2 separate regions of the Homo sapiens genome follow, and region 2 is linked to region 1. The links come from fine-mapping of genetic effects on gene expression. A gene starts in region 1. The other region holds a variant in brackets. All regions are shown on one strand. Distances are between the middles of the regions. Region 1 holds the start of CCDC69 (coiled-coil domain containing 69). Region 2 overlaps CCDC69 (coiled-coil domain containing 69).

Region 1 (5,373 bases):
TTGACCCCTACCCACTCTGCCTGGCCTTCTCCTGAGTCCTCCTGGGGGATGTGACCACATTAGCCATGGTCTTTGCCAAGAAGAAGGGTTTAGGCAGGACCACACGATCCAGATGGTTCCTCAGCACCCACCCCCAGCCTGCCAGGAACCCTATTCATTTATTCCCAGCATTTCAACTTGTCCCAATAAGGCAGTGACCTAGTCCCAGGCCAGGCCTCTCAGGGTGGTCTAGAACATCTAGTCGGCCAAGCCCAACAGGCACCATAGACCACAGAACTCAGCAGACCCCCAGATCCTTGAACCTGGAGGGACATGAGAAGGCCTCATGGTCAAGCTCCTGTCCCTAGCCAGGATAATCCTTTCTAAAAGTGCCTGCCTCATTCCTTGCTGCCTGCCACCTCCATTCTCCACAAAGAACCCCCTCACGCTGTGCTTTCAGTGGCTCAGCCTTTGCTTAGGCCTTGGCCATGAGTGGGTAACTCCTGCCATACCTTCCAAACCACCCTTCCTCAAAAACCCTTCCTGCATCTCTCAAGGCTAGATGTGATGCTCCTACTGCTCCCTGGGCCAACCCCTAGCATGGCTCTTATTTGTCCCTCATTCACTCAAATATCTACTTAAGCACCTGCTCCATGATCTGTATAAGGCAATGAGCACCAGATGGGGAGTGCAGAAAGCCAGGCTCAACTGCACAGCTTTGCCACCAACTGGCTGTGTGACTTTGGACCCATCGTTCCTCACTGAGCCTCAGTTTCCCCGGTAAAGTGGGAAAGATTCTGCAGCTCAGCCTAACTTCCAGGGCTTCTGTGAGACTGGGCGGGATGTGAAAGCATGCTGTAAACACTCAGGGTGAGTCATGGTTATCAGAACCTAACCCCTCTGTAGCCTGAGCTCATTTTTGTCCATCCCATCCCTGGAGTCCCCCTCTCTCCCAGGGGGCTGGTAGCCTGTTGGGGATGAACTTGGGAGCTCATGCCTTCCAAGGGGTTGGCACCTGGGTGAGAAATTGGGCAGGAGCACAGCCTACAGGGATGAGAACTTTAAACAAAAACAGCCCATAAATCTTGCCATATAGGGGCAGGGGCCTGGCATGGCTGGGGCCAAGAAGGCATGCCAGGCTGTTCTCTGAGGCAACAGGAGTAAAAGATTTTACGCTAAAGTCATCAAGAAGCCACTGGAAGCACAGCGGGAGGAGGTGGAGACAAAGAACACGGAGCTAGGGGACTAGATACCTGGGTTCTGCTCTGTGTTGCTCTGTGACCTCAGTCATGCTCCTTCCCTTTTCTAGGCCTTAACCTCCTATCTGTATAGTGGGTGCGTCAGCCCAGGTAGTACCCAAAGGCCCTTTCCAACTCAGACAGGCTGTGCCAGCTTTACTTGCCCTTCAGAGCTTTGGCTGTGCCAGGGACAGGCAGGAACAGCTGGTAAGTCTCTCAGAAGGAGCAGGAGCCAAAGAACCTGTGCTTACTGTGACCTCCTCTTCCAGCTTGTGGAAGGGTCAGGCTCTTCCCCGTTTCCTCCACCTCTAGGTAGATGGAATTCACCCTTGGTCCACTTTGCAAGCTACAAGGTTGACACAGGTGCAGAGAACACAGACTCTCAGATGCTTAGGGATCATCCTGCTCATCACTCCCCATACAGGGAGAAACTGAGACCCAGGGAGACACAAGGGCTTGCTTGGGGTCACCCAGTATGTTTATGGCACCACCAGGACTTACACCCAGGGCTAATGTCTGCCTACCACTTGCTCAGTTACAAGTCTCAGCCAAGGCTCAGGTCTCTCCGCCTTGTCATCCCTGTCAGCCAGCCCCTTCCTTCTACTGATAGAGCCAAGCCTCAGTTTCCCTGTTGGAGTGAGTAAAGACATGAGGGTTTCTAGGTCAGGAGTTGGTGAGAATTTCAATCTGGTAATAAAGGGAGAGCAAGGAAAGCCAGGAGGTGTCAGAGAAGGGAGTAGAATCCTCCAGGCTAGGACTACTGTTAGGCAGAAAAACCTGTACTCAGGGCACAAGCAAAGCAGGAGCAGAGGGAGGACTAAAGTTCATTGCAAAACTATTAAACACTGTCACAGTTTGGGGCCTCTCAAGGTCTCAAGGGGGAATGATGATAAAGTTTAAGGGATCACCTAGTCCCACCTGGCTAGGGGGCAGGTAGTGGTAAGAAAAGGGGCCAGAATTTGAGGGTCCTTCTTCCCCTCTGCCTCACAGTGTCCCCTGAGGAGGCTATCTTTCTAGCTCCAGGCTCTGACCTTCTGGGCTCGTCAGACCCCAAGGGGCAGCTGGTCTCACTGCAAGAAACCTGAGAATTGTCCCCTGGGCCCTGACCCAGCTCCAAGGCCCCTTGGGGGAAGGACAGGAAGGGAGGAGAGGGCCACAGAACGCAGTAGATCTCCTCCCTCTTTGGCCCCTCCCAGCTACCCCAAGGGCAGCCCACACTCACCAGCTCTGGGGCCTGCAAGAGCCCTAAGACCAGCGCCTCAAACTTTAAAGCGTCATCACCTGGGCATATTGTTAAAAGGCAGCTTCTGTCTTGGCAAGACTGGGCCTGAGCCTGAGATTCTGCATTTCTGACAGGTCCCCAGGGATGCTGATACTGCGAGTCTGTGGAACACTCTTCGAGCAGCCCTGAGATTATCAGCCTTTAACCCCCGGGGGGAGGAAGCCGAAGGCCCAGAGAGGTCAAGTCACTTGTCCATGGCCACACAGCGAACAGCCCCAGACCGAAAGCAGAGGGCACCTGCCACAGACACACGACATCTCCCCACCCGAGGCAGCGGGAATCAGCTGCCTTTCCCTGGCCCGGGTGCCGTGTTTGTAAACTCGGCTGCTTGGTGCGGCTCGGGCCGGGGTAAAGGGCGCCTCCCAGCAGAGCCTCCCTCGTCTCTGAGCTGGCCTCTCCAGGTTCTCCGTCCGGTATCCCGGGCCGACCAGAGAGAGCCCGGGGCGCCGAGTCCTCTGCGGCGGAGCGATTCCGCACTCCCCTCTCCTCTGAAAGCAAACTTCTCCGCCGGCGCCCTTTACCTTTTTCGGGGGTTTGCAGCTGCTCAGCCTGCTGTGTCTGCAGCCCATCCTCCTCCGGGGGCTCCCGGACGCCGCTTCCCAACTCCGGGGCCCCCAGAGGAGCCTGCGATCCGGGCCCCGCTGCCCGCTCCGCGCCCGCCGGCTGGGGCTGCCGGCGAGACCCTGAAACTGAACCTGGAAGCGCTGTCTTGAGCCTGAGCTGGGGCGGCCGCCCGCCGTAAATACCCGAAGAGCGGGGCCTCAGTGTAGCCCGCAGGGCCAGCGGCGCCGCCACCAGAGGCAGGTGACCAGAATCCTTCTAAATAATAGGAAGCTCTGGTCAGGGCAGAAGAAAAGAAAACCTCAAGGAGCAACAGATGCTTTTCCGAACCCTCAGCTAAGAAAGGGCCGGGGGAAAAAATAATTAAAGCAATTATTTGATAAACTAACAACTATCATTCATTGAGGGCTGTTTTTGTCCCAGTTGTTTTATACATTTTATTTCTATTTCTTGCCATATCAGTGCAACAAAGGTATTACTTCCTCCATTTTACAGGTGAGGAAAATGGTGTTCAGAGATGCAACATGATTTGCCTAAGGTCACATGGCTAGTAAGTTACCACAGCCCAGATAGAATCCAGTTCCTTTTTTTTTTTTTTTTTTGCCGCTATCATAGTTCACTGCAGCCTCAAACTCCTGGGCTCAAGCGAGCCTCCCAGCTCAGCCTCCTGAGTAGCTGGGACTACAGAGGCTCACCACCATACCCAACCAAATTCTTTTCTTTTTTCCAGTCTGATTTTGAACGACCGCCCTCAAGCGATCCTCCCACCCTGGCCTCCCAAAGCGTTGGGATTACAGGCATGAGCCACTGCACAGAATACAGTTCTAACTCCAGAACCTAAACTTTGACTCAATGGCCTACAAATAAATCATAATACTAAGTTTATTGTATTTATTTATTTTTGAGACAGAGTCTCGCTCTATTGCCCAGGCTAGAGTGCAGTGGCACGATCTTGGCTCACTGCAACCTCTGCCTCCCAGGTTCAAGTGATTCTCCTGCCTCAGCCTCCCCAGTAGCTGGGATTACAGGCATGCACCACGACACCCAACTAATTTTTGTATTTTTAGTAGAGACAGAGTTTCACCATTTTGACCAGGCTGATCTCAAACTCCCAACCTCAGGTAATCCGCCCGCTTCGGCCTCCCAAAGTCCTGGGATCCCACACCTGGCCAATAATACTAAGTTTAATTTTAATGCCTCCTCACTTCTGGGCTGATAGTTTTTTCCACCTCACAAGCATCTGTAATATTTGACTCTATCCATCTTGGATAGATGTTATTCATCACAACAACCTCTTGAGGCAGGCCAGGTATGGTGACTATGGGACATAAAATGTCAGTGTCTAGGAAAAGGAGCTTTTGTTTATCTTCTCTTTGTTATTAGCTGAGGTTTCTGAAATGGCAATGCAGGAAAAAGATAACCAATTTTGAAAATCAGTGTGTATGCCTATTTGCGTGTATATTGGAATATTAAAGTCAGGCCCAAAACTCTTGGAAAGGTGTGCTGTGAAAACGGCTTAGAGTCATGAATGGGGAAAGAATATGAGACCTCAAAAAAATTGCTCCCTCCATAGGGTACAAAACCAATTGCAAAAGTGTGTAAGAAAGGAAACTAAGGAAACGTGTTATTAGGTTCTCAAAAGCAAGTATAATAGAGAATGGTGGCTCACAAAGTGTGATTCCCAAATCAGCAGTGTCAGCACTACCAGCCGCCTTTGTTGGAAATGCAAATTCTCGGGCCCCACCCCTGGCCTAAACTCTGGGGATGGGGCTTAGGAATCTATGGCTTCATAAGCACTCCACTCATGTCTGGCCTGGGCTAAAGTTTGAGAACCCCTGCCATAGGACGTGCTCCACAGGTACTGAAGAAACAGGATATACTTAAATTATACTAAAATTAACAATGTTTATTGGAACAGTGCTCATGATTAAAAACAAAGAACCCAAAACAACCTAAACAGCCAAGAAAAGAAGGTTGGTTAAATACATTATGCTATATCCATAAAAATAGAATGCCACATAACCAGCAAAAATACTGATGAAGATGAATTTTTTGTGTTACAAAACATAACAAACTCATTTTCATTAAAAAAAAAAATTGAGTGACTACCACTGTATTGGTGAGATTTTGAAATTTTAAAACAGTTTTTTTTTTTTTGAGACAGGATCTTGCAATATCACCCAGGCTGGAGGGCGGTGGAGTGATCATGGCTCACTGCAGCCTCAGTCTTCCAGGCTTAAGTGATCCTCCCACCTGAGCCTCCCGAGTAGCTGAGACCACAAGTGCCTGCCACCAAGCCTAGCTAATTTAAAA
Region 2 (5,373 bases), 43 kb before region 1:
AAACAACATCAGCTTTTGATGACTCTCTATGTAGTCAGCCGTTTTGTCCAGCCAGCCGATCAGCCATGGAACCAGCTGATACCAGCTCAGCCTTTCTATCCATTGACCTATTCACAATCAAGTCAAACTGTTCCATGCATGAATCCTCCATCAGTCAATCATTCCATCACCTACCCATACTCCATTAATTCATTTTACCCATTCATACATCTACACATCCTCTATCAATTCAACCACCTCAACCATTCACCCTCTACCCATTTAGCCATTCTGCCCATTCATTCTATTCATCCATCTCTCCATCCCTCTATCTACCATCAATTCAACAATTCTAACAATCAAGTCAACATGTTTGTCTCTAACTTCTCTACCCTCTTAACCATGGCAGACCCATCTTCCTCCCCAAAACCCACCATCCAAGCTTCAGCAACATCAGTATAACTAGGAGAAAACTTCAGTGTGACCTGCATGGTTCTGGGCCGAGCCAGAGATTGCTGTGGACCTTAGCGAGGGATATTCAGGGCAGAAGGTAAGCAGCGGGTAATGGAGGCTGTGTGTATGTGTGTACATGGTGGTGGAGTGTTGGGGCAGGGAGGTGGGAGTGAAGGATTAGTTAGGACCAAGAGCAATCATGGTGGGATGGAGCTACTGCTTGACTGGGAATCTGATAAACCTGGATTCTGGTCCCAACTCTGATGCTGCTTCTCTGAGTTACCTAGGGCAAATCACTTCCCTTTTCTGGGCCCCAGTTTTCTCATCTTTCAAATAGTAACTTCTCAGATTACTGCGTAAGAATGCATAATTTGTTCCTTTCTTAATTTAACCAAAAATGAGCACTTGCCACATGCCAGACACTGGACTAGGTACTAAGGTTATGAGGATGAGTCTAAAAGAGATGGCTTCTGCTATCTGCAAGTTTATCATCTAAGCAGGGAGAAGTGAAATATGGACAAAAGTGACCATGCAGACAATGCCAAATGATACAATGAGCATAAAACAGGGCAATGCGATAGGGTCTACCTAAGATATAGTGGTTAGGGAGTCATCTCCAAGGTGACATTCAAGCCGAGACCAGACTGGCCTCAGCCACACAAAGATGGTGCTGGAGCAAATGCTCAGGCTCTGTGGCTGGGTGTGTATGTGTAACAGGAGATGAACGTTAGCAACTGTTTCCTTGGCATCTGCTGTGAGATCAGACCTTCCCAAGTGGTGTTGGAGAGGTAGTGTTTCTTTCTTCTCAAAGAACTTACTCCCATGAAATTCAAACATCTGGAGAACGGCTGTGCTAAAAGGTATATTACCAACCTGGAGGACCTGAGGCATTTGTAAGAGGACTTCCTGGAAGAGCTGGAATTTGACAGGAGCCTTGTGGAGAGGGAGGGGGAAGATCCAGACCTGTGGTACTAGGAGAAAGAATAAGGGCGAACATGTCACACCCACATGAGACCCAGAGACTCATCTGTCCCACCACTGCCACCTGTGGAGAATGCAGGGGAGCATGTGGGCCCAGGAACTCAAGCATCATTCTTGAGACTCCCAGGAGCCATCAATGACATGTGAGCAGTGAGCTGATCTTGTATGGGTCCCAGGGAAAGAGTGGCTCAGAAAGACCCATGAGGGGCTATCACCCAGCTGGAGGCCATTTAAGAACAGTATAGGACAGGGAAACAAGGTGCTCTACAAGCTGTGATTTGACAAGATCACCACTTTCAGTAGCCCTGAAAAGGAGGCCAGTGGCACCCAGTGAGGGTGCCCTGTGGAACCCAGTGAGGGTGCCCTGTTCCCCCCGAACTTAAAACACTCTGGCTCCACCTCGCTCCAGTCATTTGTGTAGCCTGAGCTGGCACATAGCGACTTCCCGAGTTCATCTCTCCATTCCCTGCAGTGGCTGCAAGGATGTGATAAAGGTGAACTCCACAGAGGCCTTAGGCATTGGAAAGGGTAAAGGATCATTCTCCCACTTGTCAGAAGAGGAAACTGAGACCCAAGAAGGGGAAAGGAGCATACAGACGGTCAGGAGACACTGGCTTGGCTTTACCAGGATTTCCCCAACATGTTCTTTAGAAGGGTGGAATACCAGAAAGTTCCCTCCCACCCTACCTCACTTCCTCTTATAACCATTACCTGTCTTGGAGATTCAAAATACACAGGTACATGTAACAGACTCAGTGGTCGGAGTCTACCCAATTTCACTTTGCTTTTCTTAATGTTTCCAAAACACTTTTGGTAGTAAAATTCTTCCTCTTCCTCTCCTTTGAGGAGGTAGCATCCCTACAGAAGCAGAGGGCCACAAAACCCACGTTGGGAAGTACTTCCCTGGACTGAGTTACCTCTGGACACTCTTTGAGAAGGGGAGGGAAACCCAGCTTTTCTCTGCAGACTTGAGAAGCTTAACGTTTTTCACAAAGAACCTGGCCTTTAAGGTGCTCTGACACCAAGCTGAAGTGTGACCTTGGGCAAGTCACTTCTCCTTTCCCCAAAGAGATAAATGGTGCCTCTTACCTGACCCTGGTGTGTGAGTCAGAGATGCACCTGGGGCAGCTGATGGACAGTCCGTTTTTATCCCCTACCGTTGGGCCAACCACTCTACATCAGTGAACAGGCCCATGTGGTACACGGGGAGAGCCAGGTACAGCAGGAGGCAGAGGGCACCCTGTATGTGGAGGGGACCTGGGCTAGGGATGCTGGTGTCTACACCTGCTGGGCCACCAACCTTCAGGGCACTGGTTTGGCCACCACCCATGTCCACGTGACTCGAGGTCCTCGTGTCTCCTCTACCCCTTCCTAGCTCCCTCCCTGGCCACAGGCATCTGGATGTGGAGCAATAGGCAGAATCAGGGGTAGGTACCTGTGGGAACATCAGTGTTTCTGATGCCAAAGAGGGGTCCTGCAGTGCAGAAGGTGACTTCTCATTCATCCTCGCAGTCTCTCCCACCCCATCCCTCTGTTTTCACCACTTACTTCAACCTCAGCCTCACTCCAAGCCTTGGTCTATTTTGAAGGCCATCCTTTAATCCAGGCTTCACCCTAGCCCCAGGCCCCACATCCACAATTAGGGCAAAGCAAGGGCCAGTGGGGCTTTGGTGCTTGAGGAGAGTGCCCAGAACCACGAGTGGGCTACCCAGGCCCCAGATTTACTCTTCAGAGATCCCCACCATTGGCAGAAGTCCTTGTGAAGACCCACCTCCCCACCCTCCCAGAAAAACACAA[A/G]AGTCACATAAATAAGGTGCCGCATGTTCTTTTTAGTTTCCATACATCGTCTGTCCCAGAGTGAGGAGAAGTTGATCTCCTTCCCACATCCACCACAGGCTGCGTGAGGGAAGCCTGGCTCCCCACAACTTGCTCCTTCTCCAGCCCTGCCCCTCTCAATTAAAACAATGCTTTCTTTTTTCTTTTCTTTTTTTTGAGACGGAGTCTTGCTCTGTCACCCGGGCTGGAGTGCAGTGGCGCGATCTTGGCTCACTGCAAGCTCCGCCTCCTGGGTTCACACCATTCTCCAGCCTCAGCCTCCCAAGCTGCTGGGACTACAGGCGCCCACCACCACGCCAAGCTAATTTTTTGTATTTTTTTAGTAGAGACAGGGTTTCACTGTGTTAGCCAGGATGGTCTCAATCTCCCAACCTTGTGATCCACCCACCTCGGCCTCCCAAAGTGCTGGGATTACAGGCGTGAGCCACTGTGCCTGGACTAAAACAATGCTTTCTAAAGCGCATTCTGCAGCCTGATGTGCCTGTGAGGTGAGAGGTGTGGGAGGGACAGAAGCTTTGTTCAAAGAGGTTTGGGAGAGGCTGGATACTTAGCTCCCTTCTTGTAAGTTTGCCACACACATTGGCATATTAAAGGTTCTGAGAAGTCATTCAGGTCACTGATCTGTTTAGGTGTCCCCAAATAACTTGGCCACCAATCATGTCTACTCCTGGACATTAGTTCAATAAACTAGTGTATCGCAGATGTGCTTTGCAAAAAGCTTCATGAAAAAGTACACATGTGATTCCCTCCAGGGCTTTCCTCGAGGCTCCTGGGTGACCTGTCTGACCATGGCTGGAGAATCAGCACAGCACTCCCCTAGCCTCACCTCTTCCCCCATTTGGCTGTGGAAATGGAGAAACACAGTCACCTCTGAACTTCTAAACCTAGAAACAGAAGGAGACTGTACACAGGGGAATACAGAAGGCAGTCTGGGATGATGTCACTATAGAATGACTGATGAAAAATGCAGATTGACTGTTCTGACGCTGGCTTAGGGCCTGGGGCTGAAGCTGGGGACCTTGAGCAAGGCCCTTTGACTCCTGTGATCTGTTTGCCATGTTGCCAATGAGGAATAGGAACCTGCTTCAAGGATCTTATGAGGACCAGGGGAGGGAGGGGTATGGAAAGCCTTTGATGCAAATGCTCTATGCAGAACAGGAGTTATAATTATAGTCTCCATTAGACATGAAGCTTCCTGAGAAGGATCCGAAATCCACAGACTATCAGGACTGGACGGCCTGCTGAGGTTAGTTACTCTAGCCACCCCTTTTCACTGATGGGGAAGCTGAGCACCAGGTTGTAAAAGCCTGGGCCTGGGATCAGGGGCAGTGGGAGGAGGAGTTAAGGCAGGGAGCAGGAATGAAAAAGAAACTAAGTGGGTGAGGGCCAGGGAGAGGAAGATTAAGTCACAGATCTGATTTTCCAGAGCCTGAAGAGAAAAACAGAGCAAAGGATAAGACCCGGATGACAGATGAGATCTAGATTCGACTCTGGGAACTGCTCCATGCCTTGGTTTCCTCATCTGTGCAGGGATGAGGTTCCAGCTCTGATAGATGAATGGACTCACAACCACCAAGCTTGCCCCTGTGCCCAGGTGGCACCAAGACTGAAGGGCCAGGAGGGCTGAGGGGATGCACCTTGCCTGGTAAAGGAAGAGGAGCTCTGGCTACTGTCCCTTGGTGGACACGACTCTGGCCCAGGAATGATGCCTCAGCTGGGGAGGCTGCCTGGCCCTGTCAGCCCCAAGGGCCTTCAGAGACCCCCTCTCTACCACTCACCTTCCCCACTCTGATTTGCGGGGTTTGTCCACACTCCCCCCAACCCCTACTCTGGCCTTCAGACAATCCTAGAATGGGACACTGCAGTGACATAAGAGTCCTTTGACCAGTCCCCCCACCATTTTAATGCAGGGGTAAACTGAGGCTCTGAGCAGGCCAGGGTGGAGTGGAAACACCTAGAGGAAGTTGATAAGTCAGCAAGTCGGCAGCAGAGCTGACAAGCTGGGACCAGGGGCTGTCTCCTTTATGTCAAATGGCCAGCGTGACACAGACTGCCCCTGGGAAAGCCTCGGAACTTCTCGGATTGGGACAGAGTGCTGGGGCAGGGAGGAAATGTCTCCTCTTG

The links. PIP is the estimated chance that this variant, and not a neighbour inherited with it, causes the effect.
Region 2: its variant is fine-mapped to the expression of CCDC69 in whole blood (TOPMed, PIP above 0.99).

Annotation. Positions count from the first base shown.
Region 1 is chr5:151,220,903-151,226,275 of GRCh38, forward strand. It overlaps CCDC69 (coiled-coil domain containing 69), which reads right to left and starts at 3,190. Exons shown (of 9, transcript NM_015621.3): 1 at 3,021-3,190. The coding sequence starts at 3,068. LOC105378230 (a long non-coding RNA gene) reads left to right here. Exons shown (of 4, transcript NR_160730.1): 4 at 2,574-3,448. RefSeq lists enhancers at 973-1,192, 2,613-2,722, 2,743-2,942 and silencers at 3,063-3,142, 4,626-4,920.
Region 2 is chr5:151,177,830-151,183,202 of GRCh38, forward strand. CCDC69 (coiled-coil domain containing 69) reads right to left here. Exons shown (of 9, transcript NM_015621.3): 9 at 3,223-5,373. It also overlaps the pseudogene PDGFRL2P. Among named protein-coding and RNA genes, the nearest start is that of ANXA6, 23 kb to the left of the region's middle. The variant A/G (reference allele first, on the strand shown) is at 3,211.